Regions from separate parts of the Homo sapiens genome. Here all the other regions are linked to region 1. Evidence: fine-mapped expression QTL. A gene starts in region 1. Each other region holds a variant in brackets. All regions are shown on one strand. Distances are between the middles of the regions. Region 1 holds the start of SAMD4A (sterile alpha motif domain containing 4A). Region 2 overlaps SAMD4A (sterile alpha motif domain containing 4A). Region 3 overlaps SAMD4A (sterile alpha motif domain containing 4A).

Region 1 (10,248 bases):
GGTCCCAGTAGACTTATATCTTTTTAGGGTTCCAAGTCATCCTCAATCTCTTCTTCATAATCCTTTAAATGAAAAGATTTCTGATCATTTAGAAAAATATTATTCATATCAATTCTATATTAATTAAAGGCAAATTTAAACCTGAGGGATAGAATAGATCCTTGCTGGATCATTAACAAGTAACTTCCGGACAATAACAAGGTTTTATAATCATCATTTCTCAGATAAGAAAACTGAGGCTTAGAAATTATTTAACTAGCCCAGGCTGATTTAAAAATCTGTACTCTAAAAATCTTCTACAACTTATGCCCTCCTATGACTATAAATAGATGGGCACCTGGAGAATACTTTTTTCTCTATTTCCATCCTTCCTTCTCCTGCATATGCCAATGCGGACAGCAACCAAGCTGCCCTTAGAAGATAATGCCACCATGTGGCCAAAATGGAAACTGTCTGAACTAAACTGGCTCTTCCACTCATGCCTCTCAGAGGATCATGCATGTAGGCCCATACATTAAAGGGGATAACACTATCTTCTGCATGGGAGATACCTTCTTGACCCCTCTTTACAATCTTTTTATATTAAAATATTGAACCAACTCCTATTCGCCCCTCAGGACTCAGCTCAAATGTATCTCCTCCTCAGGGAAGTCTTCCCTGATTCCCCAGGCAATAAGTGGCTAGGTTCACAATGCTCCCAGTAGGCCTCTCCTCATACTTTTTATCCCCATATCTATGCTTCAACACCTATGATATTATATTAGTCATTTACCCCACACTAAGAGTATCTATCTGTACTAGGCACTGGACTAGAGTTAAGTTACCTTTACATTTCCATTGCATAACACTGGGTCAGGAAAATAGCAGGCAGTCAGAAAATGTTTGTGGAATGAATAAATGAATGAAAAAACTACAAACAAGATCTTATCCATATCATCAGGAAAACCTCTTCTGCTGCTTTCTTTTTATGCCATTTGTAACCTTAAAAAGTAACGCAGGGTGGAGGATGGCATACTTGTACTACAGAAACCAAAACCATAAAAATCATGGAACCAACATACCCACCCTCTAATGACAGCAAGTTTACACAAATATGGGGTGAGGGTGACAGCCCCTCATCCCATTCTAAATATGTTACCTCCAATACACTATGGATTATCAATTTTTTTAAAAAAGTTAGAATTGTGTCTAGAATAAGAGTAATTACATTCTGAGAGAGAGTCTTCAAGCTCCACAATTATTTTTTTGTCTCAAACATCACCATTTTGGATACCCTTTTCTCTTGTATTTAACTATAAGTATAGGAATTTATTGTCATTTACTTACCACAAACATACACAAATAGTGTATATTTTGTGGGTTACGTTTTTGTGGATTAACTTATAAATCTCTATGAAAAATATATTTCAAGTCCAAGTGACAAAAGCCATAAATAAACAATGCCACAAAGTCTATTTTTCTTTTGGAAACTTCAGGTAAAGTCAGTGGGTTGCATTTTTGCTACTTGTAGGTATCAAATGACCTGCTAGTCCTGGAACTGAGACTGGCCAGAAGTCTCAATGTTCAACTGGAGCAGTAGCTGAAGAGACTTATCTAAGGTTATAAGGATCCTGGGAACAAGACTGTACTAGAGAACTGATCATGACCATATCTGTTAAAAGAAAAACACATACAAATAAATCCATAGGGACTGATTCAATCATTTCTTGGAATCTCCAATGACCATGAGCCTGAGGCAAAGGATGAACCAGTGAATCACTAGATTCTCAATAAATTTAAGAGAATGAAAGCACCAAATTACATCCCACAAATCTCAAATAAATCATGTTTAATGCGCAGGATATCTCACTATTTAAAATCAGTCCTGCATAAAACGAGAGATATATTCATACTATTACTAGTAATTTTTTTTTATTATACTGAGATCGAGTCCCATATATGAATTTGGTTCCCATTTACCAAGTTTTAAAATCTCTAAACACTAGACAAAATGTGAGGGTTTTTTAAATTGATGATTACAAAATAAAGTGATACAAGATGACTTCGGTACAGGAAATCTCAGCAATCCAATGAATGAGTCATTCTGCACAGCCTAGTTTTCTGAATTGGTAAGAGCCTTACACATCAAAACAGCTCAGAGGTTAATTATTCTGGGTGTAAACATTTCCAAAGTATATTGAACATTTCCTTCTCTTCTTAAAGAGTGTATCTAAAAATGTATTATTTCCATAGTTCACCGTTAACAACAGTAAATAGCAATTATTTGTTTATGTTATTATAGAGTGGTGCCTACAAGGTCAATTGAGGGTTCCCACCCTAATATTCCCAAGCCTTCAAAGTTTCTGCCCCAATTCTTGTCTAAAGTTACAGTTTTTCTGTCTCTTTCCAAGTTGTCAGGCTGTCAGGGGTCACTTTTTACTACTGATTACAGCAGTCCCTCACCCCATTCTAAATGTGTTACCCCCAATACACTACGGATTATTTGTCAAATTTTTTAAATGTTAGGATTGTGTCTAGAATAAGAGCAAGTACATTCTGAGAGAGGGCCTGAAATATTCTCTTGGACTTTCATGCTATCTACTCTGGTTGCGAAGTGGACTTTTTGCCCCCTTCCTGGTTCTTGGCTAGTTTCCGGATATGCAGAGAGCCACACTACAGACTCAGGTATGCTATGACAACTCCTGATGCTCTTTATGATCCCCACACTCCGAAAGTAAACCAAATCATCACATGACCTCCTAAGAAATTTCTGTCCTGGCCACACAACAAAACAACTGCAAAGATTTCCATGCAGGCAAAACGTCTAGGCGAAGGATTAATCCAGAAACTGGAGACCAGTTCCTATCTTACACAATGGTTCTATATTTTGTATATCTACATCATTTAGCAGCATGAACAGGTGGGTATCTTATACAAATAAGTATGGCCAAACATGTCTTAAGGGAAAAAAAATGCCAAGTGACTTCAAAAAATTCACAGTTCAATTTTTTAAATTATGAGATTTTTAAAATTAGGCCACCTTATTTTAACATTTAACTGTTTTACTTACTAACCTGGTGGCTGCTCTATTGGGAAAAGTCATCTCCATTACTCAAAGGGAAAAAGTGCTGCTCCAACATTTGAATAACCTAAAGATGAGTTTGAACAGTCCCTACCAGCACTGAAATCAAGCATTCAACCTAAATGACTCTGCGTAAATCCTCTGCAATCTATAAAATGCAAAAGTTTATATAACCTTGTTTGTCAAACCTGAGAAAGTAAAACCGAGCAGGTAAACCAGGCTTCCCGCTGAAATTAAGGAAGGAAGCAAAGAGGGTGGATCATCAGTTACCCAATTATGCTTCCACACCCCAGTGAAGGAGGCTGGCCCTCCAGCTATTTATAAACGTGGAGCTCAACCAAAGGGGGCCCTGTCATCGCCACCCCAGTGAGTCCTGGTGTGAGCTGGGAGGCTCGGGCTCAATGGAATCTCCCTCAATGTGGCCCTCCATACTTGGCCATGCAGGATCTTTCGGGTGCAGTCCTGTCTGGTCAGGAAAAGAACTGTGAAGATTTCCAGCGGTCACTTCCACCCTATGATTCTATATATGGAAGCATCCCATTCTAGTGTTTTCACCATCGTGCACACCATACTAGGGAGGAGGAATGAGTAGGCCGGCTCGCTTCTTGCTGCTCTGAAGGCACACTCACTTTAGTGTCTCCCAGGCCCCACTGCCCTGGACTGGACCTTGTCATCAAATGGCAGCCCAGACCTCTGCTGAGCTTTGCAGGCTCGCAGCTCCAACATGGAACAGCTGGAAGAGGACCCTGCATTCTTTTCTCTGCATAAACACTGGGGACTCTGTTCACCCTCCTGCAGCAGCATGAACTAAAGAATTTCCCCCTATCCAAAATCACAACCATCAGACTTTCCCCCCATCCCCCAGCCTCCTCCTACCCTCCAGGATATAATTTCAGTCTGTCACCACCCACGCTAGCAAATAGGAAACTGCTGGACCTTTCGACTATATTCACTTTCCATACTAGTTGAGGTGTCTGTAAATACTAGCAGGGTAATATGAAACGATTCTGTTCTATTCAGTAAAGTTTCCTAACGAAAAGCATTAAGTAACCCACTTCATGCCTGTCCTTTCTCCAAGACCCTTTTTTTCTACAAGATCCGTATCAATATGGATAATGTCACGAGCAGTAAGCTTAACCGCATTATATATATATATATATATATATATATATATATATATATATATATATATATGCTGCAAATGTCATTTTACTAGTCTCTAGCGTCACCTGCATATTATTCTGAAGACGAAGCTCTAAAACCAGAATATCTGTGGGGAAAAATGAATAATAAAATTGGATTTTCATGTACTCCTCACACAGCCTTATCCAAGCTTGGCTTCTGAAGGGCAGTCCCGGGCATCTATCATGTGTTGCTGAAATCCAGCGAGCCACGTTGCCCAAAAGAAGGAGGAGGAAGGAAAAAACACACACACCCAGAAAATCCAGACTCTACGTGACCTGACTTACTTATTTCCCAGGAAACTGCATGAGAGAAAAATCAATCATTCATGCTACCGTAGCTACCACACGGAAAGGGCTGACGGAGTTCACAGTGGGCAAAATCCCAAAGCGGCCGGCGGAGGTAAGTAGGTGGGGGGCGGTAGTGGGGGGACACCCGGAGGGGGTGGATTCCGAGGGCCTCGGGGCCACGCCGTCCAGGTCCCGGCGCGGCTGGCAGGGACTGGCCTCGGCCTGGCCCGAGGCAGAGAAGCGGAGGGAGGAGCGGGGGTTGGGCAGGCGGGACGGCGGCGGCGGCCGCCGCACACTTACCGGGGCTGTTGGCCTCGCGTTCGAGGACGTGCAGCTCGGCGCAGTCGGCCAGCGAGTGCTCCAGGCAGAGCTGGAGGAAGCGGGCCTGGGTCTGGCTCACGCGCTTGAGCAGCGACAGCAGCGCAACAGTCTGCTCGCACTCGTTCCAGCCCTTAAACCAGCCCGCCAGCACCCCGACCTGGTCGCGAAACATCATGGTTAGGGGGCCGCCCTCGGTCTACAGAGCCCCCTGGGCGCCCCAGCCCGCCCCGCCCGCCCCAAAGTTTGGCGGAGCCGCAGCCCCGCGGCCGGAGACGCGTTCCTGTTCCAAGGTGGCTCTGGTGCCCGGACGCTGCAGGTACTGCCTGGGCTCCTGCCTCTCTTGTCTGGTTTCAGTTACGTTCCGGTGGTTCTGGCTGATTTCCCCAGAGACGATGACAGACAGTAGCACGGAAATGTTTCTTTAAAAAAAAAAACGACTTTTTAAAAATCCCCCACAAGGCACACAACTGAATGAAGAATGCTTTCTCCCCCCTTCTTGCAGCTTTGGGATGGTGATTTCCGGCGTCCTGGGGTCTCCTCCCCGCTGGGCGGCAACTCGGACCCTTCACGCCCGCATTCCCGAGCGGCGATCACCACTGGAAGGAGAGAAAGAGCTGCAGTGAGACCTCGGCTAGCGGAGGAGCGCGCCCTGGGGGGACGAGGGCATCAGAGGGTGCTGGGGCCAGGGGAGGGGGCGTCCCGCGGAAGGTTGGGTTCGCCGAAATCCAGCCGCCCCCTCCGCCCCCTCCGCACCCGATGTGGGAGATGGGCTATTCCCCACCGGGTAACAGCGAGAAGCCTGCTTCCCAGGTGCGGGAGGAGACCCCGCGGCTTCCTGTTGCTGCCGCTGCCAACGGCTGGTGCTCCCCTCACGGCCCGCCTGGGGTGGCCTCGGGCGCCGTGCTTAAGAACGCCAGCACCAGCAACAGATCTTCCCCGCGCAGAAAACTTGCAATGCGGCTGCGAAGGGGCGCGGGGGTGGGGGTGGGAGCTAATGCAAAGCAGAGGCGGAGGCAGCGGCAGCCCGAGTTCCTTCCTCCTCCTCTTACTCCTCCTCCTCCTCCCAGAGAAGCAGCCGAGCGGCTGCAGCTCCATCTACAGCAACAGCCAGCATCTCCACCGCCAGGCGCCCCTCTGGATTTAGGCCGTGAGCAGCCGCGGCAGCAGCTCGAGACAAAAATAAACTCTCTCCACCCAAAGCTCCGCGCCCAGCGGGCGGCGGCGCAACCCAGAGCCCCGGCTCCCCCGCGCCGCGCCGCACCAGCCCACCCGGGAGGTCTCCCTGGGCCTGCTCCGGCCGGAGCGGTCACTGTGCGCGCGCGTGTGCGTGTGTGTGTGCGCGCGTGTGTGGCAGGCATCCTGCCGCCGCCGCCTACGGGCTGGTCTGTCCGGCCCGGAGCCTCGCCCGCGCGTCGCAGGCCGAGGGCGGCACAGCGCTGGGCACACGCCCCGCGAGGGGACGGCCGGGGTCCGCAGCGCTGCTCCCTTCGGCCAGCGGGGCGGCCCCGCGGGGAATGCGGATCGGCGCCGCAGGCACACGCCCCCCAACGACAGCAAAGAAAGTTCGGCTGCGGGGGTTCCCCCAGTCCCATCCCGGTTCTCGTGGCCGCCGCCGGCGGGGAGGAGAACCCAGCGACTCAGCCTTCAAGGAGCCGCTAGCTTCCAACAACACGCTGCTTCCGGCTCCCAGAACTTCTCGGGCGGAGGGGGAAGCCCCCGGGGAGGGGACCCCCAGTGACCCGCGGGTCCCCCGCCGAGGGCCGTAGGGAGGGAGCGCTCACCTCGGCGCGGCTCATCCCGGCGGCTCGGGGGCCCTTGCGCGGGTCCGGGGCCGCGGCGGCTCTCAGCGGGGTTGGGGGCGCCCGGAGCGCCGGCCGCGGGCCATGCCGTCGGGGCGGGCGGCGCGGGGAGAGTGCGGTGCTTCGAGTCGGGGCCGCTGCAGCCGCCGCTGCTGCTGCCTCCAGTGTCGGCTCGCGGAGGACTGAGCCGCCCGAGCCGGAGCTCCCCACATGCTACTGATTAACATACACCATTACATCATGGGCTTGGCAGGGAGCGCCCGAGCGGGGGGAGAGGAACCCGGGCGGCGGCGACGGCACGCGGGGGGAGCCGGGGGGAGGAACCCCGGACCCGGCGCAGGGCGGGGGGACGGATTCCTAAGTGGGGACCAGAAAAAGGGGAGGGGAGCGGAGTGGGAGGAGCTGGTGGCGCAGAGGGGTCGGGTAGAAGGAACCTCCGAGAGGAACGAAGAAGTTCGGGGAAGAGGACGGGTCCGGGTGAATTTCTTCCTGCGGCCGCCTGCGTGTTCTGGAGGGGTCGGGACACTCAAGCCACTGGAGCCCCGGCAGAAAGGGACCCGAGGGCGCTCGGGCGGGGGCGGTGCTGCCACCCGCTGCTTGTCCTTGGGAATGTGGTTCGTCCGCTCGGCTGACCCTCGGCCCTTCTGGGGCCCCGGGGTGGCCGAGGTGTTTGGCCCCCGGGCGGTGAGACCCGAGGTCACTGCCGCACTTGCTGGGATGGGTTCCGGGGGTCGTGGAGGCGAAGGGTTCACGAGGCTGAGGGGCAGTGCGCAGGGTTGGACCTGCCCAGGCGCTAGGTTCCGTGCCGCCCTAGTCCAAGGGCCTGGCCCGGGTCGGGTGCCGGATGCCCTTTGCTCTGGCGCAGGCTCCTAGAGGCCGGCCCGGCGCCTGGCTGAGTCCCACTCTTCCCCGGGGAGGTGGCCGAACTCCTGAGACCGGTCGGGGGAGCTGTGCCTGGCGCGCGGGCTGCGGCTTCTGGCCTGGAGCGGAGGCGAGCGCCGCCCTGGGCGACAAAGAGGCGGGGCGAGGCCACCTGTCAGCGCTTAGGCGTCGCCAGGCCTCGCAACCTTCACCTGGATCTGGAGAGTGCGCAGGGCCGCGGCCACACCGGGGCTTCAGGTCCTTGCCGCGCGAGAGGCGAGGAGGGCGCAGCGCAGAGGCTGAGTGGCGCAGGGTGGGCTGCGAAAGTGCCTCTGCTAGTCTTGAAAGTAAAGGTTTGGTTAAAAATACCCTAAACCCTAAAAACCTCTGTACCTCCTGATATGGGTTGAATATTCGCAAGAAGGACTGGATGACTAAATCTGGGCTATCTCCGTGATTTCAGAGGAAACACTGCTCCCTCCAGCAACTTGAGGCTTTGTTTATACGGGAGTAATTCTGAGAAGGCAGTGAAACGCGTGTTTCAGACCCAGCCTTTCCTACTCCTGCTAATCCACTGTTTTGAAGAGAAAGTATCTGAGATATTATTCCACTAATTAACACTTTTGTTTTCCAACTCCGGCATATGTCCCTGGAATTTAAATGCTTTCTTCCCTTCCTCCTCAAATTTAGTTTCTGCAGCGTATAGTTCGTTTCAGACACGTGATAGCACCTAACCATCTGTTAGGGTTTTTGAAAGGTCTTGTCGAGGTCGAGCTGCAAAAATGTGGATTTTTTAAAAGTTAATTATTAACCAGACAGGTGAGGTATCCGCTTAATTTAATGAATATTTTGCCCTATTTAGAAAACAGGAAACCTGAAGTCAGTGTTTTATTTTTGTTTTGTTTTGTTACTGTAGAGGCAGAAAGGCTTGATAGATTTTCTCCAAGAGATTACTATGAATTAGCTAATTCTTAGTAATAACTTATATCAGGAAATAGGGAGGATTAGAGAGTATGGTCTACTTCGGTATATACCTTGCTATAAATTGTAGGCAAAGCAGATGTCGTTCTAGGGCTTTTGGAAGCTCCCAAGAGTGAATTTTTTTTAAAAGAAAGTGAAAAAACCAGAAATTTCATTAACATGTATTTTCACCTGCAGCTTACTAAAGGTATAGTAAAACTAAAAACAAAACAACAAAAAAAAAAAACAAAACTTAAGCTGGTGAATGAAAATACTGCCATCTACTGGAAAAGTGTAGTTCTTACACCAGCCTTTGACCTAGGAAAAGACATTGATTTATCTCATTTTTGAATTCTTACTGTTCAGGACACTCTAAGACATATAAAGTTGAGCATGACATGAGCTGTCAGTACTCTTGTATTTGTGTGTTAACAATTCCTTTCCTCTGGGCAAAGGAAAGGGAGTATAAATAAAACCCAGGGATGTGGCCTCACTCTTCCCCAGAGTGAAGTCATCACTCTAAAGGAAAAAAAAAATACATTCATTAAATATAAGGTATTGTATTAAGTGTGGATTTTTCCTATGTCAACCTGGACCCAGTATTATTGATAAATAAGAAGTGCCTAACACTTACTATATAGTCACATCACTTGAAAAATGAATGAAAATATCCTTTCATTAGAAGAGATATTACTATGTCTATGTTCACTGTATTCCTATTTATTCATTTGAAAAATACTTATTGTGTCACCTTGTGCCAGGCACTGGGTTAGGCAATAAGTACCCTGAGTATTCTGAGTACCAAGTACAGGCACTGAATACACGATGGGGTACTAACCAAGAGATACTTTATATGAATAAAACACAGATCAGATTATCATGAATTAACATTCCCAACATTATTTTGCTTTTCTCCTCCTTAGAATCTGGGAAGGGAAGAAATTGTTTTCTGAGTGAATAATACTTTTGATCAAATAATTAAAATGTTCAGATGTTCCAAAGATTACTAATTCTAGATAAATCATTGACATATTTATAAATCACTGTTTAAGAGGATGCCTGGGTATTATTTGCATAAATAAGAAATCCCAGAGATTTCATGTTTATTTTAAATTTATATTTCTTCTAGAATAATCTAAAACAAAAGAAATGCATTAGATATAAAAACAGAGCTGTAAGCTTTAATTATTTGCTTTATAAATGAGCAAAAGTATTAAAATCTCTACATAAAGGTAAATGACAATGGATAATTGCCATTCATTTAATCATTTGATAAATATATATTGAATACTTGTTCTGGGCCAAGTCCTCAAGATAAAATATTAAGACATTTGGTATTTTTTATCTAACACAAAAGCCCATATAGCAAACATATATATGATTATATTATATAGCAAGAAAATATATAAATAAAATTTCATATATTCATTACACATTTTAAATGCATATATATGCCATAGGAAAATGTGTGAAAAGATTTACACCAAAATGGTAACTAATGGTGATCTTCTCTGCATGATAGGATTTCTGAGTATTGTTGTCTTGTTTCTCCATATTTTCTAACTTTTCTACTGTGAGTAAGAAAACTAAAACCAAAACACTACGTGAGTTCAGGCCTACTGTCTAAAACTTAATTTTAAAAGAAACTAAAGAAACTCTACTATAAAATTTAGGTCTATAACTCCCAAGAATTGTTTGAGCCTGTATCACTTCCTACCTAGGTCTTATCCTAGACTCAGTAGTGGGTCTCCCTTCCTCACTTCTGATCTCTCCA
Region 2 (10,248 bases), 220 kb before region 1:
TGATATCTGGGGAACAGCTATTTTTGCCAGGAGCCATATTGAACCTGAGAACCAAGATGAAAATATCTAATCCTCACCTCCCAAGTACTTATATTTGAGGGTAGACACAGACATGTAGACAGACAATAATGCTATATGTGATCACTGCTGTAATGGAGTAGGTACCAAGAGAGCAGGATCGTGGAGGAAGGAATGATGGCTGCCCGGTTGGCCTGGGAAGTCAAGGACAGTTTCAGAGAGATACAAAGTGACTTTTGTAGCTGGTGCTGGCAGGAGGAGGAGGGTGGGGATGGTGTGCGGTGCATGCATAGGTGGGATGATAGGTCATCCGGTGGTGGAGCTGAGGGTGCGTTGGAGGTTTAGGATGAAGGATGGGGAATGCAGTAGAGGAGATGGGGTGGAAGAGCCAGGCAGGGGCTGCAACGGACACGCAGGTGGACCTGTCTAGCTCACATCCCTTTCTTTGGCAGCCTCTCCTTCTCAACCCACGTCCCTGATGAGACACTGGGGACAAGGTGGCTGTGACCCTGTCCACAGCTGAGCAGACCAGAGGGATGGACACATCTGACCCAAACAAATCCAGATTCTCTGTCTCGAGAATCTGATCAAAGGCAGAGATGTCTGAGGTAGGTGTTGTGGGCACTTAGAACTGAACAGTCTTGGGGAGGTGGGAGAGTGCTGAGGCCGCCCAGAATCTGCCACATCTACGTTTTGGAGAAGTGGATGACCCAGGCTACAGAGAAGGCAGGGGATATGACCATCAGAGGTGTGAGGCCTGCCCGGCCCCTTTTTGGCTGTCTGCTTACACGTGGGTTCTAGAACGGTCCCCAGGAGCAGACCATAGGGTCTTGCATACCATGAACAAGAGCTTAGAGGTAGGTAGTTGGGGAATTATAAGCAGTAGAGTAATGAGATTTAATTTTAGAATGGTTTCTCTGGCAGCTGCATCAGATAACCTGAGGAAGGATAAGGCTGGTGGCAGGTGGACCAGTTAAGAGGCCCCTATAACAGTCTGTGCCAGAACTGACAAGGATTTTTTCCAGTGAGCAGAGAGAGGCATGGATTAGCCATCACAGGCGGTAGGAATAACTGCGTTCAGTGACCACTAAATGTGGGTGAGACAGGGCTGTGGGGTGCCTCCCTGGCTTTGCTGATGTCCCAGTCCAAGCCCCAATATTACAGAACTGGTCCACCAGATGCAGCATCTCTATTTGCTTGGCAGAACTTGGGTGTGAGAAGGGAGTGGCAGTGTGTTCCAGGGAAAGCTGGAGGACCCAAGTGACAGGCGTGCTGAGGCCACCACAGGGGGTTGGTTCCTGGCTTCCTTGTGGGTGGAGCCAGGCTGGCAACTCTTGCCAGTGGGGCCTTGGAGGAGAAGCACTTCCTCAGTTGAAACTTTTGAGATAACTGTAGGTTCACATGCTGTTGTAAGTAATAGTCCAAACAGACCCAGTGCACTTGTATATAAGTTCTGTATGATTTTAGGGGAGATTTTAAAGAAAGGAAGCAATGGTCCCTGAGTGTGTCAGTGGTGTCAGATCACCAATCCTAGAGGCCAACAGATGTGAGCCTCTCTTTCTCCATTCCTGAGTTGCAAGCATTGGAACCTCTTTCACTGTGCTTTCCTCTCCCTGCCCGTTCCTCTTCCCATAAAAGGACTTGACTCATTAGCATACTGTCTCCAGCAAGGCCATCTTTCCTGGCACCTGGAAGGGGTTGGCCAGCAGAGAAGCTCTGTCATATTGGGAGGGCACACTGCCACTGTGCCCAACTAGGCCACCCTGAACTTAATTTGCATTCTCTGCTCAGGAAACTGCTTACGAGGCTTCCCACCAGAGGAGATCATTGGGAAAAAACACAGCACTAAAAAAGCTTAGGAGATTAACAAGATGAAAACATTAGCAAAAAACCCATCGGTTCAGAGAGGTTTTCTGTAAAAACAGAACAGACTGAAAAAAACGAAGTCTTTTCAATGAAAACCTTCCTTTAATAAAGAGCATTTGGTATTCTTGCTGCTAATGATGATAATGTTGGTACTTAGCAGTTTGATATGAGCCTCCAAAATGCCAATTGTCTGAGATGTATCAAGCCCTGGGGGAAAAGGTCAGTTCTCCTTTTTCTTTGGTCAAAAGCAGTGAAAGACTGAGTCAGTCCCCCACCCAGCTGGCCACTGTCGAGCAGGGGAGCACAGGGGCTTCCCTCCCCATGTCAGAGCTCTGGCAGGTGCCAGCTCAGGGGACTCACTCACCAGCTGCTATCCTAACTCTGGCCCCAGGGAGACTGTCATTACTACTTTTAATTGAAATATTTGCATATCATAAATTGCACCCTTTGAAAGTATACAATTCAGTGGTTTTTAGTATATTTGCAAAGCTGTGCAACCCTCACCACTATCTAATTCCAGAATATTTGCATCCTCCTCCCTTCAGCCACTGGCAACCACTCATCTACTTTCTGTCCCAGTAGATTAGTCTATCCTGGACATTTCACATAAATGGAATCATACGCTCTGTGGTCCTTTATGCCTGGCTTGTTTCACTCAGCATAATGTTAAGATTCATCCACTGCATCGCATAGGTTGGTACTTCTTTGCTTTTTAAAGGCTGAATGCTCTTTCACTGTTTGGATACACCACATTTTTTTGAGCCATGTTCATCCTTTGGTGGACATTTGAGTTGTCTCCCATTTCTCATTAGGGGGCTGCTGACCCAGTCTCCTCTATGAGGTAAAGATGAGCTGGCAGCACCTCCTGCCAGAGGTACCAGGGATGGCCCAGTGATGTTCCTGAGATCTGAATGGCCAAGGCAGAGAGCAGTGGCTCGCAAATGAGGCTCTTTATAGAGCTCTGGGGGAAGTCACAGAAGGGGCTGTGTCTTCCCACCATCTGTTTGGTGAAGCTCTGTGATGCCCTTGGAAGGCTTTCAGCTCCCCCTGATGCTAAGGTCAGGTGGGTGTGGTCCCGGGCCCACCACTCTGCTCCATGCAGAGCACTGATCTATTTCATATTTGGTTTCAGGATAAGATTGTGTTTGCAGAGACTAAAAATCTAACAACCTTAGGTCTGGAGGACAAGGCTCTCTGAAGCAGCAGAGGATGGCAGTCTTTTCCCCACCACTGCCAGGTGGCGCACGTCTTGGCTCTAGGTGTGCAGACAGCCCTTCTCTGGGTGGGTAAGTGTGTCTAGACTGGATAGGGCTATCGCTTCTCGGCCTTTTGGCTAAGAGCAAGTGTAGACTGGATAGGGCTATTGGAAAGGCTCACAGGAGGCCTCTCTGTGTCTCTGTGGCACAGAGCCTCCCAGGAAGCTGGCAGGAAATGGCAGACATCTCTTCTCTCCTCTGCCTGCCAAGCATCATAAATATCCAGGCCCAGAGAAAGGTGCCCGCTTAGTACCAGGAGGGAGCTGAAGGCCTCCCAGGGCTGCTGTGACCAAGCATGGCTTCCAGCCAAACACACGGGGGAGCACAGATGCTTCTGTGAGCTGCTTGTGGGGCCACAGCCCTGCACAGCACAGCCCCCATTCTGGGCTTGGGCAGTGGACGTGCAGGCGCCTCTAACTCAACCTGTCCCTGTCACACAGGAAAGGACACCTCAGCCTGCTTTGGGCTCCAGGTGTCAAGAAAGTTGTTTGCAACTGGGAGATACACAAACAAGCTGGGTTTTCTGTTTTTCAAAAATTATATTTCTAAGGCAAGCTGGGCTATGCTTGGACCAGGCTGGGGGATCTAGTGCAGAGAAGGGAAGCATCCAGTGTTGTGCGGGATATTCCTACTAAAAGCCATGTCTCATGTCCCTGACTCCTCCAGGCCTGGCACTTGGCTGGGACAACTGCTGTGGTGTGATTCCCATGTGCACTGGGAGGTGGAGCTTCTGGGGACAGAGGGACAGCTTTGATTGCCAGGTCCCTGACTCACCTCCCAGAAAAGGAGGAGAAACAGGGCACTGGCCACTTGGCATGGTGCCGCTGGAAAATGGTCCAACAGTACCCTAAGGCCACTCTTTCTCCCTGTCCCCTGCCTACCCCTCCTTGTCCTCCCCCAATTCTCCTGAGCTCCTGCCACGGTATAGACAGCAGATGGCCAGTTCTCCCAGGCACACGGTAACAGGGACATGGGGACATGCAGGAAGAACACACTCACCTCCCAGGGCGTGTTCGGTCATACTGAGGCACAACGACTCCAGCCTGTTGTTGATGTCAGGTTCGGTCACGGGAAGCTGGAATTCTGCAGGCGATAAAGGGTTATGTTGGTGACAAGGAGGAGATAAGCAGGGTGCCACCTGGTTCCACCTTCAGGAGAAAGGTCTGGTGTACCTCCCTGGGAGGACTTGGGGACTGTCAGCGCTGGCATGGAAGGGGCTCCACTCAGGCTCAACCAACCTCTAAGGTCTGTTAAACACAGTCCACTGTGAACTTGGGAACCTGGAACAAAACGGAGACTAAAAATAGCTGGTCATGTCACAGTCTGTGCCTCCTCTGCTCAGAACCCTCCAGCGGCCTCCCATCAAAGTAACAGCCAACCTCCTGCCCTGGCCCATAAGGCCCCGCATGATCCAGGCCCTTGTTATCTCTGTACCCTCATACAGCTCTCTCCTTCCTCTGCTCTGCCCCAGGCCCCCTCCTACCTCACGGCCTTTGCACCGCTGTTCCCTGGGGTGGTTTCCATGGCTCTCCCTGCCTTCACATTTCTGGCTCTATCATCTCCTTGGAAAGGACTTTGTTCCTTGTATGAGCCATGCCCCCACACTATCCCTTTCCCCTGCTTTATTTTTCTTCATAGCCTTCGCCCACAGCTGTCATATTTGATATTTGTATTCACTTTCTACTGTCCCCCTCCCCTGACCCCGCTGAGTGCTCACCTCATTGGAGCAGAACATGGCTCTGCCCCCTGTGCCTAGAGCAGGGCCTGGCATGCATCTAGAGTGGGAGAGGAAAGCCAGGGCCCAGCACGCACCTCTTAGTGTGAGACCACGTGGGGGGCTTTAGGTGTGCGGGCTCCTTAATCTGCCCAACAAGCCCAAGTGGGGTTCAGAGAGGTGAAGTCACTCATCAAAGTTAGCCAACTAACACAAAGCTGGGACAAGACCCTCTCTGACTCCAGAGCCGGGGCTCAGCCACCTGCCACAGCAACTGCAGGTAACTGTCAACACACTCAGCCTCGAGGGCCTCTAGAATCAAGGGCTGAGACACCCACTCTGCAGGCAGTAGGGGCTCGGCTCCCACTGACCGACAGTGCTGTGCACATTCTCACCACAATCTCCCCTCTACCACCTGGAACCCCTCTATCTCCCCAGGTTCCAATGTCGCCTCTTGTGAGCAGGAGGCAGTGTCTGGGAGCCACCTCCTCTCACCTGCTGGAGCCCTCACTGTCAGCACCTCCGCAGGCCTCATCCAGTGGCGACTTTAAATGTCCTCAACTACCTGGAAGTGCCTTGTAGACAGTGATGATGCTTCCCTATCTCTCTGAATCTCCCACAGCGCCCAGCCCTGGCCTTCTGCCTCATACATGTCTACTGAGCGAAGAAAAAGAGAAAGTAGAAGAAGTAGAAGGAAACTCTGACAGCTAAGAGTTGTGAAATCCTTTTTGTTTTTT[T/G]TTTTTTTTTTAAAGTTTTGTGACACTGGTTTGAAAAGAATTGCAAAATCCTAAGGGGAGAGGCAGAAAAAAAGTCCCAGAGGGGGTGTCCACAGCGGGGTGTGTTCCAGGTGACCGAGAAGTCTCCGTGTTGCCACCACCTTCCTCTGTGAGCCTGGGAACCTGTTCCATGCTGAGGGCCTTAGCTCCTCTACCTGTCAAGTGGGCAAAGCATCCCGGGGTCCCCCTGCAGGCCACTTGCCTGCTCCTTCATGTCTCCACCAAGGGAGCACATGGGGCCAGAGAGAGAAGAAAGAGAAGTGAAACGAAGTTGGTGGCTTGGTGGGATAGGAAGCTGAAACCAATGGTTAAGTCAAAGTTTTGTTTTCCTTGATTTGCTATACATTAAGATAATCTCTGCAATGTGTGTTTCCCATTGTCAGCTAATTCAGAGGCAGATGTTGCTTCCGTTATTTAAAAATCTCAGAAGCCTGGCAAAAAGGAACGCTATGGAAAGCACCAGAGAGCTGACTGTGTTCTTCCTGACCCATGTTCCGGCATCGATGGGTTTGGAAGACAACCGTGCCAATACGTGAGCAGACGGAGGCCGACTGAGCTTCCAGGGAAGTGGGGTGCCACAGAGAATGGCAGGAGTCTCCACCGCCCCCACCCACTAGTTGCTGTTAGAGTAGGGTCGGGGCAATTAGACAATTCCAGGGGGAAGAGATTTTAGTATTTTCATCCATTCATGTGAAAATCATATGCATGCAAAAATTAGCAGTCTTCAGGGTGTGAAATCTATAAAATAGAAACACAATTTTATATATAGCGAGTTAGCAAATATGAAAAAAAAAAACAAACCTCAGCAATTATAGCCATCCATATGCTCATTGTAAGATTTAGTTTACTCTCCAGCGCTCCCCTTTAAACAAACACTGTGGAGAGATTTGGATAAATAAAGATGCTCGACATTTGGAGAGAAGTGTTTCAGCTGCAGGATTTCTTGCCAACACGCAGCAAAATGCCATTTTCCAAGCCTGGGATTGCGTGTTCCAAAAAGGGGGCTGAGAAACGCAGGGCTCTCCGCTCCAGAATCCCCAAACCTTCGTGGCTGCTCTTTTAGGTGGGAAGTGGGGGTGTTCGCTTCTTCTCCCCAGCTCTTTGCTTCCATGCACTGGGGAGCCGTGACCCCCAACACTCCGAGTGGCTCTGAAAAATTCTAAGTCTTGGGAGAAGCCCATATGTTCACACTGCAGAGTTTCCTAATAGTGTGACTTTTTAATTGTGTATTTGATAAAAACAGATCCATGCCATCTCGCCGCACGTATAAGACAGAAAGACCAGTTGGGTGGAAAACAGCTTCCATCTCAGGCTAGGAACCCTCAGCTGTATGGGGCTAGGTGCCCCAGAGGGGCATTCGGGCAGCTCTTGCCCCACAGACCAACATAAACCACCAGGCCAACCCTTGCTGTGGCTCCTGTTAACCCTGAGGGCCCATCTCATTTATCCCAGGCCCCTGCCCCTCGTGGCCACAGACCAGGCAGATGGAGATGTGAGTCTTCAGGAAGGCAAAAGGAAAGACCCCTCTTTAACTGAGCCTCCTCTGCTCTTTCCCAAAGGAGGCATGTTTCTTCAGCTCAGATGGCATCTCTGAGGACCAGTATTCCAGTATTCAGTAAGGATCGCTAGTTTTGGAATCCCCAAGGTCTAGGCTGACTTGAGACATTAATTGTATCTTTTCAGAAGTCCCACACGTATGGAGTAGTCCTGTGCTCAGGCCCAGGGTCAAGAAGATTCCGGAAGAGAATGCTACCCATCCCTAATGAGGTGCTGCTGCAGCATCCACCTGAGGAGCCCAAAGGGCTTGTCCTTGGCAGTAACCGTCCATCCCTGCTGGGTCTCACATGTGTGGCACCCACGGTGCAATTCTGCAGTGCTTTTTCTCCAAGGCACTGAGGGTAAGGAGCCAATTTCTTTAGGACTTTAGAATAAGAAACAGGCTGGGGCATTCCAGGAAAAATCTATAGAATCCCGTTTTGCCAATGACAGCGGAGGCAACTCTGTTGGATAACTAGAAAGGTGTGGAGTCTGGTTCACTGAGCAGCAGGGTTGCTAGGAGGAGAGAAAGCAGGGAAGACAAAAAGGGACAGAGCAGTGGGACCTGGTCTGCTGTGATGAGATGAGTAAAGAAGAAAGGAAGACAAGAGAACTAAGAAGAAAGGGGGAGGATGGTAACAAAAGGGAAAGAAACGGCACAGGCAGGGAAACAGAGGGGTGGGGCAGCAGGCAAGCTGAGGATGGCAGAGATGGCCATGGAGGGTGGCAGGAGTAATGAATAGCATCCCTGAGTTGACCATGGGAACGCACCTTTTCTCTGGTGGCCTCCTAACATTCCTAAGCCTGCAGAAGGTCAGTGCCTGTGGAGGTCCTCTGGGACCAACGCTTTCACAAAAAGTGATGGGTACAACATGGTATAAGATGATATTGTACCATCTTGCCCCAAGTTGATGCTCAGAGGCAGGAGGCTGTGGGCCCAGCTGGGTTCTTGGCTATGACAGAATTGATTTATTTATCAATCTCCCTACCCATTGTCTGCCAGTCCTGAACAGGGATGTCTGCCTTGATTTATTAGAAGACATGGAGGAAATATTTATCCAGTACTGTACTTGGGTCCCTGTTCTGGTTTCTGCCTCTGCATGGCAGCCCCTTCCACACCCCACTGGACCCAGTGCACCAATAACTCTCTATTCTTTCTAAAGGCAGTTCTCCGGAAGGAAATGAAAAATAACAGCCTGGAGCCCTGTGCTCCCAGATATATGCAGCGTGCTTATGGCAGAAGAATCCCAATTGTGAGCTGGTACTTAGAGGAGGTTTGCTGTGGTGATCAGGTAAGTCACACCATGAAATGCTGCCATGTGAGGTGCCACTGGACCCAGCTCACATCCAGCTGGTTCACAACCAAGGGTAGTTTGCATGTGGCTTTGGGCAAGGGAAGAATGAGATTTTCAGAAGGCTGTGCAGCCTACCCTTCTGAAGGTTTTCCTTTGAAGCCTGCTATGGGGTTCCCTGCCCTTTTCTGTTAGGCCCTCCAGGGGGTAAAGAACCTCCATGATCTCCTACTGTTGAGCCAGGGCCACTCCAAGATCCTCTCTGACTGGATCCCAAGGACAACTAAGCCTGGGTCAGTAGAAATTAGTTGCTTCCAAAATAAAGGATCCCTCTCCAAGCAATTTCCAAACCAGTTATCTAGTTGAGAAAACGCCCTGCCTCCATGAGGAACGTGACCATTCGCACAGGCGCCACACTTGTTTTCTGGTGAGCGTATTACACCTCGTAGTGTTTCTTACTCATCACTGGCAATAGCCACCTGAAGGGTCTCCTGGCTGGTCCCAGGAAACAGCTAAAACTTGTCCATGTGAAGGTGGAGGTTGCAGTGAGCTGAGATTGCGCCACTGTACTCCAGCCTGGGTGACAGAGTGAGACTCCGTCTCGAAAAAAAAAAAAAAAAAAAGCTTGTCCATGTGGGAATAACATGAAACACCACTCCTGAGGGGCCTCCAAGTGCCCGTGAATTGTGTAGAACCAGGAACGAGGGATGAGTCCTGTAAACCCGAGCAAGGTGACTGATGAATTGATCCGCAACTTGGTGGGTTCTAGCCCTCTGTCTTCTCTGTATGAGACGTTTAAAGTCTCCCATCAGTAGAGTTATTTTAGGTTTACAGAATGAAAGCATCCTTCAAATGCATTGTAGTCTTCAAGATTTGCCCAGTTTACAATGGATTCTCTGAAGACATCTAACAGCCAGGAGGAAAACACTGCATTGTATGATAACAGTTTTCCGAGTATCTACTTTTGGGTTAGTTACACATCTCAATTTCATTTTGTGTTCACTATTACTCCTGTTCATGTACAGATGAAAGCCACTTTCTGACTTCCTGATTTTTGCTGTCCTGACATGATATTTGTAGTCTAGTTTTAACGCCTGGCCACAAGCCCCGGGAAGTCTCCATAGCGAACCAGATTGCACTGCTTTGTGTGGAAAGGCCCATCTGCAGAAGAGGCTCTGAATCCAGGAAGAGCAGAAGCGGCTCTGAATCCAGGATGAGGACCCTGACTCTATGACTCTAGGATGAGCCTTCGTCTGGACCTGCTTGGAGGTCAGAGGTGTCGTCCCTGGGTAGGAGGCTGCCTCCTTGGGAGGAAGGAAAAGTCACTACAGTGACCTGTGGCCTTGACAATGATTGGCAAGGGCTGAGGAACCTCAACCCTGTGCCCTTAAGCAGGGGCCTTCTGCAGCCTCCTTCCCCTTCAGTGAGGGATCCTGGGTCCTGGCCAGGCCCTGCCCTATCATGCCCTTTATGCATGTCCTGGAAGAGCCACCCAGCATGGTGCTGAGCGTGCTGGGCAGGACTTAGGAGTGGCTCCTGTCCAGCGTTCAATGGTTTATTTGCAATCAGGAAATTTAGAGCGGGCTTTTTCCTGTGCTTTGGCTGTTATTAAAAATGCCATGTGAGGATCTTTAAGACCTTGCTGGAAGTGGGTTTGTAATACTTGAGAGATTTTAAAAAAAACACTCAAAGCGTTCCAGAGTTTTAAGTCCAGTGTGCGAAGCATATTATTTAGAGACTTGCAGGTAACTACAGACTGCTAAAAGGGGTTGTGCCTGTGGGCTAGGAAG
Region 3 (10,248 bases), 200 kb before region 1:
GTCCTTTGAGTTCTGAAGTCGGAATTTTGGCCACCTGGTAGATGATTCAGTATTCTGCTATGATTTTTCCTTATTTAGCGTGGATAGCGTTTTCTCACTTTCCTTTTTGGTTGGATTTTTAAAAAGTTATTTCATATGCAAAATACAGAGTCAATGAGTGATGCTAAAATGATTTGTGTTTCCAGGAAGGCAAGACTGAATTCTTAAGCAATATAATGTGGGAAGAGGACTCTGTTATGGGATACTTATAGTCACTGGAGAAAGGAGGGATCCAGGGACTCTTAGGACTCAGCTGTATAGGGGAGGGGAGTAGGACGTGATGAGGGGAGAATTTGGCTAGGCCATCTTTCTCTCTCCTGATGGGACCCTTCGAGGGTTATTACAAAGCCAGCTTTGCAGAGGGTTGCCACTGCTGGCAACCAGAGTGAATGCTTGGGTTACTTAAGATCGCTAGGCTTAATGAAATCATCAATGCTTTCTGGGGAGAGAACAAAGTGACAAAAGCAAGTTTTCCTTTCTCATTCTCTTGCCTTACCTTTCTAAATCTGATTTCATTACACTGAAATGTTGAAATGCATGAAAAGTCTTTGATAAAGTAACATTAATAAGAACCAATTAATTTGGGATTTGTGATAATTCAAGCAGGGGTTGGGTTGCAGTTACCTTTGTATTATTGGAGAAACAGGTCTTCAAAGCAAATTAATAGCACAAAAAGATCCCAGAGGAAATACTTATGAGTATAAAACATTTTCCAGCCTTATAGTAACATCCAGTTGAACATCCACAAGCGATTCATTCTTATCTAATCAATTAAAAGGGGTCCATTAGGACTCCAACCTGGCAAACCTTGGGTTAGCCCAATCCAAGTGTTACTAACAAACACCCTGGAGAGGTCAAGGTTCATGTCCCCTGCTCCACCTCCAGAAGGCTCTCGGATGTGGACCAATGACAACACAGGGCTGACAGAGGCCAGGGTGGGACTTTGGGAGGAGCAGCAAAGAGCCGCCCCATCTTCATCTCCAACCTCCGAATGCCTTCTTCCTCTTGGAACTTGTCTCCCAAGGGCCTGGTGTTGCAAGAGGAGTCTGGAACCTTTTCTATTCACCTGGGAAAAGTATTGCTGCTCTCAGAGAAAAGCCACTTGGGATGGGGGTAGGCCCCAGGGCAGGAGGCCAAGGAAGCAGACCTTGCCTTTCATCTGGGCCATCGGGAATCCTCAGGGCAAAGAGGTAGTCTAGTCCAACCCACAAGGGTTGGCAACCCCAGAGGGCTTGGGGCCAGGGAACTGGTCCTGAAGAGTGTCGCTTTGCCTGAACAATCTTTTCTGCTCATCATCCTGAGACCATGAGAGTTGCCTGGCTTCCATAGGGTTAAAAGCATGGAGCTGGAGCTGGTGCCAGCCTGCCTGGTTCAAATCCCCAATGCTGCTGCCTATGAACTTGTCTGTAAATGGGGTTAACAACAGCAGCTCTACCTCACATGGTTGTCATGAGGATTAAATGTATTAATATTCTTAAAGTGCTTGGATACCACTTGGCATATGTAAGTGCTAAATAAATGTTTGTTTAATAAATAACCGTTATATATGCTGGAATGTGATCACACTTCAGTGTTAAAATTAATCTTTCATGAAGTCTTTTCACAAACTTCAACTGGCCTTATCTCCCTTAAATCCAAAATAGTGATGTTTTAAGGCACGCTTACGCAAATAAATGCCCAAAATTTTAACACCACGGGCAGAGAGCTTCTATACATGCACCGAGAAATGAAATGAATTCAGACCCTTTCAGGTGCAAGTGAAGAAATTATCTGCTCATGTTTTAAAAGTGTAAAATAGAATGTTAATTTTTCAGGATGTTTACATTCTCATTCCCTTATGTCCCAACAATTCCCTATCATTGTTTAAGGCTTAACCCTTCCTCTACCCTTAATTTCTCCCACAAATTGTCACTGCAGTTCATCTTTAATATGTAATTGGATTCCTCAATTTAAAACTATATTAAGGTAATGGGTTCTAAAGTACAACCAGGCTTATTTTTAACTGCGTGCAAGAAGCTGAAGTACTATGGAAAAATCAAGAATTGTACTGCTCCACTATGAGACTGCAGACCAAAATAGACTAGCACTGGGCTCTTCACCCTGCCACCAACTATAATTAGCTTGTCTACAGCACGAAGGGGGAAAAAAATCACACTACCACTTAAGGTGCTGATTGATAGAACAACCCATTTTTATCCTTTCAGATCCCCCTTTTGTGGGTAAGCCATCCTGTGTTTTGCCTGCATTTGTTAAATCATACCCACTCTCCCCTCTGATACCCATCCGGACTATTACCATCATTTTGACAATGCAAACTGTGTTACAAAAGCTCACATTCAGCTCTTCGCCTGGGAATGCTCACTCTCACAGCCTTTTCCCAGCCCCACCTGTTTAAGCAATGCAATTTGGAACTCGCCACAGGGCATCTTCGTGAACAAGGAATGGTGCCCTGCCATATTCCTGCCCCAGGAACCGAGGTAGGCAACAAGGCGCCAGGGGAACCACTACGCATTACAAAGAATGAAATCCCAACATACTTTCTTTGCTGTCGATATCCTGATATGTCTAGAAGGGTTTTCCGAGGGAAAGACCGAAAGAGCTTCTGCACCTGCTGTTTCCATGACAACAATCTTTTTTTCTGTGTCTCTGTAAATGCCTGCAAAAACAAACAGGACTTTTAAATGGGTGACGCAGCCTGGCATTAGAGGGAGAAACATGCAATTAATAAGGGGAAAACATTGGAGTCTCTGCAGTTGCCTTTTCTTCACCTGTTTCTAACCTGGTCCAAACGTAGTCAGTTTAATTTGGGAGCTGCCCTATTTTGAAAATTTAAGTTATCTGACATTGGAGGTGCGTGATAAGGTACACGCATCAAACTGTTGACAACCCTCATTTTTGGTGACATTTCTGGCAGATCCATATCCACATTCCCCCTCCCTCCTGACTCCACTCCAGACTCTATTTATTAACCAAGAATGAATTGCAAAATTGATTGTTGAATACTCTGGCTTTTGCAGGCCCCCTGCATTTTCATAATCAATGAAAATTCTCAACCACTCCAAAAATCAATCTGCTTGATGGTGTGTGGGCACCCTAGAGTGGTCTACAGGGTGTCAGAGAATGGACTATATTCTCTGTGTTTCAGGGCTTTGCTGAGACATCTCCAGTTAATGGGTCTCTTGCCTTACAAAAATTCCAGTGTACCAGTCCTGACTTAAACCTTCTCTAAAGTTTAGGGAAGTATGTAGGTCTGATGCCTGCAGAACTCTTTTCTAGCAAAACTGGTGTGTGTGTTTTGCCTGCTGCCTTGTAACAAACTCTTACCTATGTTATATTTCCTTTTGCGTTTAGCCTTTGTACTTGCCACAGACTAGGAAAGGACTTTATGTGGGTTAGGAGTCTCCAAGGCAGGAACTCTCAGATTCATGATATATTAGAATCACCCAAGGAGACAGTCAAAATTCAGATACCTGGGCTCCCTTCCACATGCCCAGAGCCTGATTTAGTAGATCTGAAGGGGATGTCTAGAGAGTTTGTGTTTGTACCAAGTGCCCTGGTAATTCTGCTGCAGGTAGAGCATGAACATGAGGTGTTCTAGATGGTGAGGACCCCACGTCACATATGAATCCCCTGCCAAGTGACTAGAACTGTAACTTAGAACACGTGCTGTGGGAAATCCATGTGATTTGATTGATTCACAGTAACAAGGAGGGAGAGAAGTTTCCGAAGCAGTTTTGTCAATAGGGCATGAATTCCTTTAAGTAGTCATAAAATATTACTCAGTAACAGACTAAATGACTAGTTCCCATAAAGGAAACAGATTCCTTAAATGGAGAAAAAAAATGACAGCTTAGTTGTCTCCCAGTGATGCTGAATCTTTAAGGACCTAAATACCAGGAGAACTCTGTGGACAAAAGCAGAAGGATGTTAATCATGTGGCAGAAACGTCATTGAGGACTTACAAACCCCTTCTTCCCGGGTGACCTTAGCCAGATGCCATTAAGAATATGCATCAAGGTGGGCTAGGAGGCGAGGGCGTGGCTCTCCTCCACAGTCCCTCTCATTGGTTGGTGATGCTCCCTGCATGTCCAGCTACACACGAGTACCTCTGAAACTGGGCAAAAGGCAAGCGTTTCTGCTGGACTAACAGCGAGAGGGGATCATTTCTGCTTTTGACTGGCTTATTCAGCCACATGTTGTGTGAGGACACATGTGGGCATGCTGGTCAGGGTGACCTGGGGAGGAGAGTTGTGGGCCAGAGGAAGGCTCTGGATGCAGATGGGCAGGGCTCGAATCCCTGCACGCCTTTACGCATGCCCCTCTACCCAAGACTCAGTGCCTCCTAGAAACTGAGGATAATAATATCTCCCTCAAAAGGATGTTGTGAGAATGAAATAACACATGAACAACACTTAGAATACCTGGAACGTGCCTCGCTCTTAATAACGGTTCAAATAGATGCCACTCACAGGTGTCACACTGGGGTTTTGTTTTGGACTGCACAGACCGGCCGTTTGGTGGTGGTATACGGCTGTTCATCGCGTTAAGTATTCAACATGACCTTGAGCTCCAATAGCACACAGCAAATGACTTCAAGGTCTCTAAACTATAATACTGAGCTGGTCTGGTGCCAGCCTGAAGGACAACTGGCCTGAGTTTCCAAGTGACAACGGAGTAAAGGGCTCATTTCATGGATGTGCTTCCTAAGACATCATTACAGACATGACATCTTCCCTGGTGGCAAACAGCATCCAAGAAGGTGGGAATGTTGGCGCCTTCCTGGGGAGGTCGGCGCATTCCCTGAGCACCTCAATGGGCAGCGGGCTCCTTTCCTTCAGGGCTGCAGATGGGAGCCAGCCCATTAGCAGTGCTGAGTGAGAGTGGGGGCCGGTTCTCAGCTGGGGATGTGGTGCTC[G/A]GTTGTGGCTGGCTTCAGGAGTTTCTGAACACTGGTTCCTGGCCTACAGGGGAGTGCTCAGTTATGGGGGATCTGCATTGGCTATGATGCCCAAAATCTCACTGCAGCCCCCTCCGCTGGCAGCCCCAGGTTGGGCTGGGGAGCAGCTTCCCAAGGGGCCTGGAGGGGAAGGGAAGGCTTCATGCCCAGCAACTGCCCAGGCACCCCTAGTCACCACTCCAGAGTTCTGGCCCTCTCAGGCCTAGACCAATGCATCTGTCTGGAGGAAGATGGCTATGGTGTCCCAGCATATGTGGCTGGATGAAAAGGTTCATAAAGCGGCAAGAGCTCATCTTCTCAGAGCCACCTCAAGACACAGGGAAGTGCCCAGAGGCCTGGGATTATAATTCAGGAGTCAAAGTGACTGGTCTCAGAAGTAAAATTCAGAACTTTCCTCTCCTTCCATTCATGACTCTGGGGACTCGGTCCCTCCATCCCGGGAAGGAAGGGAGGTGTCCTGGCCCACTCAATACCTTCCCTGCTCCCAGCCAGCTAAGGAACAGCGTGTCCGGGCTATGAAGGGGCGTCCTGTCTCTCTGTGCCCGGGTGAAACTTCTTCCAGGATGGAGGCTGTGCGCCTTCACGGGGCCTCACAGGCAGGGCGTGTTCTACCCACACAGAATAACCGGAGGCTGTGGAAAATTATTCAGACAGCTTTTCCTCTCTCTCAAAGTAAAATCATAAAAAGCCCTGAACAACATTTTCCCTTCCAAAGCAGCACGCAGGCCCCTCCATCCTGACATGAACTTAGCAAGCAGACACCTCACCAGCTCCTTCCTGACCGGGGCCCCCAGCCACGAGAGGCCCCTCTGGGCAACCAGAGGAGATCACCTGGGGCTGCACGGAGGTCAAGGGGAAAAAACAAAACCAGAGCCAGGGTACCAAGGGAGGACATGCAGGATGGCAGGCAAGCAGGAAGCGTCAGGCCAGAGTTTCGGGGCTGCCGAGGGACAATTAGGAAGCCTGTGGATTGTTTGGCACAGGTAGCTGGAGGACTCACGATTTCTGTCTCATGGGCTCAGCTGTCTTGAGGCAAGGTGGACAGTACCTTGTCCTCCAATATCAATGCTGAGAGCAGGCGTGGGAGAGGAAGCAGAGTTCCGGTGTGCTTTTATCAGAGGCTGAAATCCTCCCCATTCCGTCTGCCCCAAGCCACCCACAAATGTCCTACTTCTCAACAAAACACGGAGCCCTGCAGACATCACTCTCTTCTGCCTCCTTACGAACCGAGTCTGTACCACCAGGACTCTCGCTTGCCTTTCAGGTCTCAGGGTGGAGAGGGTTCCTCCACGGAAATGCCCTGTTCTGGCTCCAGGTTTGGTGCCCGCTGCTGCTGCTCCTCTGTGCTCCAGGGCACTCAGGGATGACCTTATCAGAGGCTTTCTCATCATGGCTGTGATGGCCTGTTTCTTTCTGTCTCACCCCTTCTCTCACTACTGTAACCTGCCTAATTCTCTCACTACTGTAACCTGCCTAGGTGCTCAGTAAGTATCTAGGGAATGGACGAGTTGTAACATTCTTCACTGTGTTCTTGCTTTCTCTTCCTTTGTCGCTTTTTCCTGGCCAAAACGAGTCCAGTGTCAGGATTCGAAATAGAAAAGGATTAGTCAAGGCTTGTGGGGAGAAGGCCTTGTCCCTGAAACAAAGTCACAAATAAGCCTTCAGTACGGGCTTTTGACAATGCCTGGGTGCTCTAGGGAAGCCATTAAAGAGGGAAAAAACCATTTTTTTTTCAGTGAAAAGTCTAGTACTTTGGTATAGTTAAACATTTCAGAGGATGGCGTGTCTGAGCCCCCAACCTAGGCGGCTGGTCACTGTAGTCACACTGACAACTTTGGCCAGAGCCGCTTGGGCACATAAGAATCCATACGGCCAAGAGGAGAAACTGCAAAAATGAGGGTTTGGGGAAGTGGGGAAGGGGGAGCTGGGATGGAATCCCAGAGGGGGACTGTACCCTTGTATGTGAAGTGTGGGTAGTGGGTGAGGGCCGTGAGAACTTCGATAGCACAGGGCCCATGTGACAGCTGGAAGGGTGAGAACATGAGAGGGAAGTGGAGAAGGGGCCTGGCCGCTGTGCTGGGCGTCTCCCTTCACCGGACCCTACTGGACTCCTGGAGTACTGGCTGCCCATGCAGCAAAGGTGAGGAGGCCTGGGGCCTTTACTATTTTTTTTTTTCCCCGAGACAAGTCTCACTGTGTTGCTCTTGCTGGAGTGCAGTGATAGGATCATAGCTCACTGTAGCCTTGGCCACCTGGGCTCAAGCCATCCATCCTCCCACCTTGGCCTCCCGAGTAGCTGGGATTACAGGTGTGCGCCACCACACCTGGCTTTTTTTTTTTTTTTTCGTAGTGACAGGGTCTTGATATGTTTCCCAGGCAGGTCTCAAGCTCCTGGCCTCGAGTGATCCTCCCACCTCGGCCTCCCAAAGTGTGGGGATTACAGGTGTGACCCACCACCCCGGCCCCCTTACTATCTTATTCTCACATCGAAATCCTACAAAAAGACTTCACCATCCTAGGTTTATCTGGTCCCAAGTTTTCTCTAGTCTAGGCCTTGCTGCTGTAGCTCTTTGTGGGGAGGGAGGGGTGCCCAAGGAGCCACTGGAGTTTTAGGTCTGAGGTGCAACTCCCTCTCCCTACATGTCCCTTAGGGACAGCCACCAGTGCTGACGGCTGCCTAGCCCCGCCATGCCAAAGGGTCTATCTCACTCTGTATATGAAGACTGTGCCTGAGGGTCCAGTAGGCACACCTGCAGCCTGCCTCAGGCCTCCTCCAAAAGGATATGTGGCAAATACGATTCCTACAACAATCGCAAGCCCAAACACACACACACATATACACATTCATTATTTCTTTATGGGCTCTCTTTCTCCCTTCCTCTCTCCAGTTCCCTGAGCTAAAAGGCAAGAGTTCAACACAAGATTTTTAAAAGACCTGACAATGCCCAGGGCTAAGCAGCAGGGCTCATGTGTTACCCTCTGAGGCTTGGCCACCCGGGGCTGCTTCCCCAGCCAGAAGTCGTTGCAGGCGTTCACTGCACATCAGAACACTCAGTCTGGGCAAATCTTTGGACACCAAAGTAATGTTCAAGCTGTGTTTGGGTTTGAGGCTGTCATAGCCTAGTTCTGCCCAACCTATTATTAATAACTGTCCACCACTCAAAAACAAGTTGTTGGAGGCTAAAATGATCACATCACAGAAACTCTGAGAACCATTTCTAAGCAATAAAAAAAAAATGGTTTTGTAAAACCTGTCACTACTCACCTCATGAATTAGACACTTGTCTATGAGCTGTAAATAGGAACTTATATTTTCCTCATCAGGTCTGGAGACCAAGAGCTGTGTGCACACTGTAATTAAAAAGAAAAGATGAATTAGAAAAATGCACCCCTTTCTAATCTCTGGGACCTGACTCTCATTTCCCTTCAGGTCCAACACTCTGAGAGGTATGTGTGTCTGTGGCTTTATGTAAGGCTCACAAAAAAGGCCAAGAGGCTCCTCATTCCACAGAAGTCAAAGGCTGGGTCACCGTGGGAGCCCTTGTCTCGAGAAGCCCCTTGGGTTAATTCCAGTCATGCCATTCTATATGAAGCCTTCTGCAATAAGACACTGCAATAAGAGGAAGAACACAGCAGTGAATAGTGGCGTCCTGAGCTTGGTCTTTGAAAGTGGCTCTGTGTGAGGGGCTTCAGAAGTATCCAAGACCCTGACACTGTCAGAGAGCAGCCTCCGTGATTTTATGAATGAGCGCACACCCCTCGCCAGGTGCAGAGACAGCGGCGTTTGTGTTTGGAGGAACGAGCTGGCACCTCCTGGAGACGGGGAGGTGTGTGGGTGTGCACATGTGCAGGAGGCCTGCTACTCACTCCTCAGAGGGTTGCTTTCTCAGAGTGATATGCACATTTATGCACACACAGGCGCAGGCTCACCTACACACTCAAGTCAGTGCTAAATAGGATGGAACAGAGTTAGTCTGCGGGTAGAGTATACACACGCACTAGGTTTCTCACGGCCATGTTACTGTGGCCCATTCTGGTCTCATTGTAGAGGTGACGATTCCCCGACTTTCTTAGTCATGTGTACAGGGCCACAGTGGAGATGGGTGGACAAAAGGAGTCAGCCAGAGAGTAAAAATGTCTGACACTCAAGGAGACCAAGCTTGAAACCTGGCATCATACTTGATTCCTCCCTGTCCCTAACCCTGCATGGCTGATTGGTCACACAATCCCATTTATTTCTTGCCTTTGCACATACACTTTCAGTATAACATTGTTTGTCATAACAAAACCTTGTAAACTACCTCACTGCCTATTAATTGGGACTTTGTTAAATACATTACGGTTTATGCATACAGTGGAATAGTATGCCATCTTTAAAAAAAACTTTGAGATGGCGCTATTTGTACTGATAGAAATATTGTAAGTATATATACTTTTTAAATTTTATTATTTTGTTTTTGAGAGACAGGGTCTCACTATGTTGCCGAGGCTGGTCTTGAACTCCTGGGCTCAAGTGATTCACTTTGGCCTCCCAAAGTGCCGGGATTACAGGCATGAGCCACCGTGTCCGGCTATAGTATTTTTTTTTAAACCCACCAGCCTGTAGAAAAGAATGTAAATAAGGCCTGCGTGTGTATAAAAGTGAATATTCGGCTGGGCGCGGTGGCTCATGCCTGTAATCTCAGCACTTTGGGAGGCTGAGGCGGGCAGATCACGAGGTCAGGAGATCGAGACCATCCTAGCTAACACGGTGAAACCCCGTCTCTACTAAAAAATACAAAAAATTAGCCAGGCGTGGTGGCGGGCGCCTGTAGTCCCAATTACTCGGGAGGCTGAGGCAGGAGAATGGCATGAACCTGGGAGGTGGAGCTTGCAGTAAGCCTAGATCGCGCCACTGCACTCCAGCCTGCGTGACAGAGCGAGACTCCATCTCAAAAAAAAAAAAAAGTGAATATTCATGTGCTTATGTATGATGATGAAGTTTCTGAAAGGATATCCCAAAACTTAATAGTGACTATCCCTGGGAATGAGGATGGCAGGGTTTGGGGTTGGGGGAGGGTGGTTTTCCACTTTCCACCATGTTGTTAATTTGAATTGTGTATGCTGAGTGTTAACTGGGGTTACAGCTTCCTTTAACGTAGGTAAAATGTAAAGAAGCAGGGCCATAGCACTGTGGGTCTCTCAGGAAGTAGGGCGATGTGCCGCGTGTTCAGTAGCTGCTCCACTTGGGCTTGGCAGAGCTGTGTCTTCACCCA

Evidence for each region. PIP is the estimated chance that this variant, and not a neighbour inherited with it, causes the effect. A credible set is the group of variants that fine-mapping cannot tell apart.
Region 2: its variant is the best candidate, but not a certain one, in a credible set for the expression of SAMD4A in whole blood (TOPMed, PIP 0.86).
Region 3: its variant is the best candidate, but not a certain one, in a credible set for the expression of SAMD4A in whole blood (INTERVAL, PIP 0.82).

The regions. Positions count from the first base shown.
Region 1 is chr14:54,562,698-54,572,945 of GRCh38, reverse strand. SAMD4A (sterile alpha motif domain containing 4A) reads right to left here and starts at 5,818. Exons shown (of 13, transcript NM_015589.6): 1 at 5,608-5,818; 2 at 4,834-5,450. The coding sequence starts at 5,029. RefSeq lists silencers at 4,787-4,846, 5,087-5,146, 5,987-6,176, 6,297-6,346, 6,907-7,036 and 2 more.
Region 2 is chr14:54,778,512-54,788,759 of GRCh38, reverse strand. It overlaps SAMD4A (sterile alpha motif domain containing 4A), which reads right to left. Exons shown (of 13, transcript NM_015589.6): 12 at 4,140-4,223. Among named protein-coding and RNA genes, the nearest start is that of MIR4308, 95 kb to the left of the region's middle. The variant T/G (reference allele first, on the strand shown) is at 5,592.
Region 3 is chr14:54,762,551-54,772,798 of GRCh38, reverse strand. SAMD4A (sterile alpha motif domain containing 4A) reads right to left here. Exons shown (of 13, transcript NM_015589.6): 8 at 8,259-8,344; 9 at 2,577-2,695. Among named protein-coding and RNA genes, the nearest start is that of SAMD4A-AS1, 80 kb to the right of the region's middle. The variant G/A (reference allele first, on the strand shown) is at 4,955.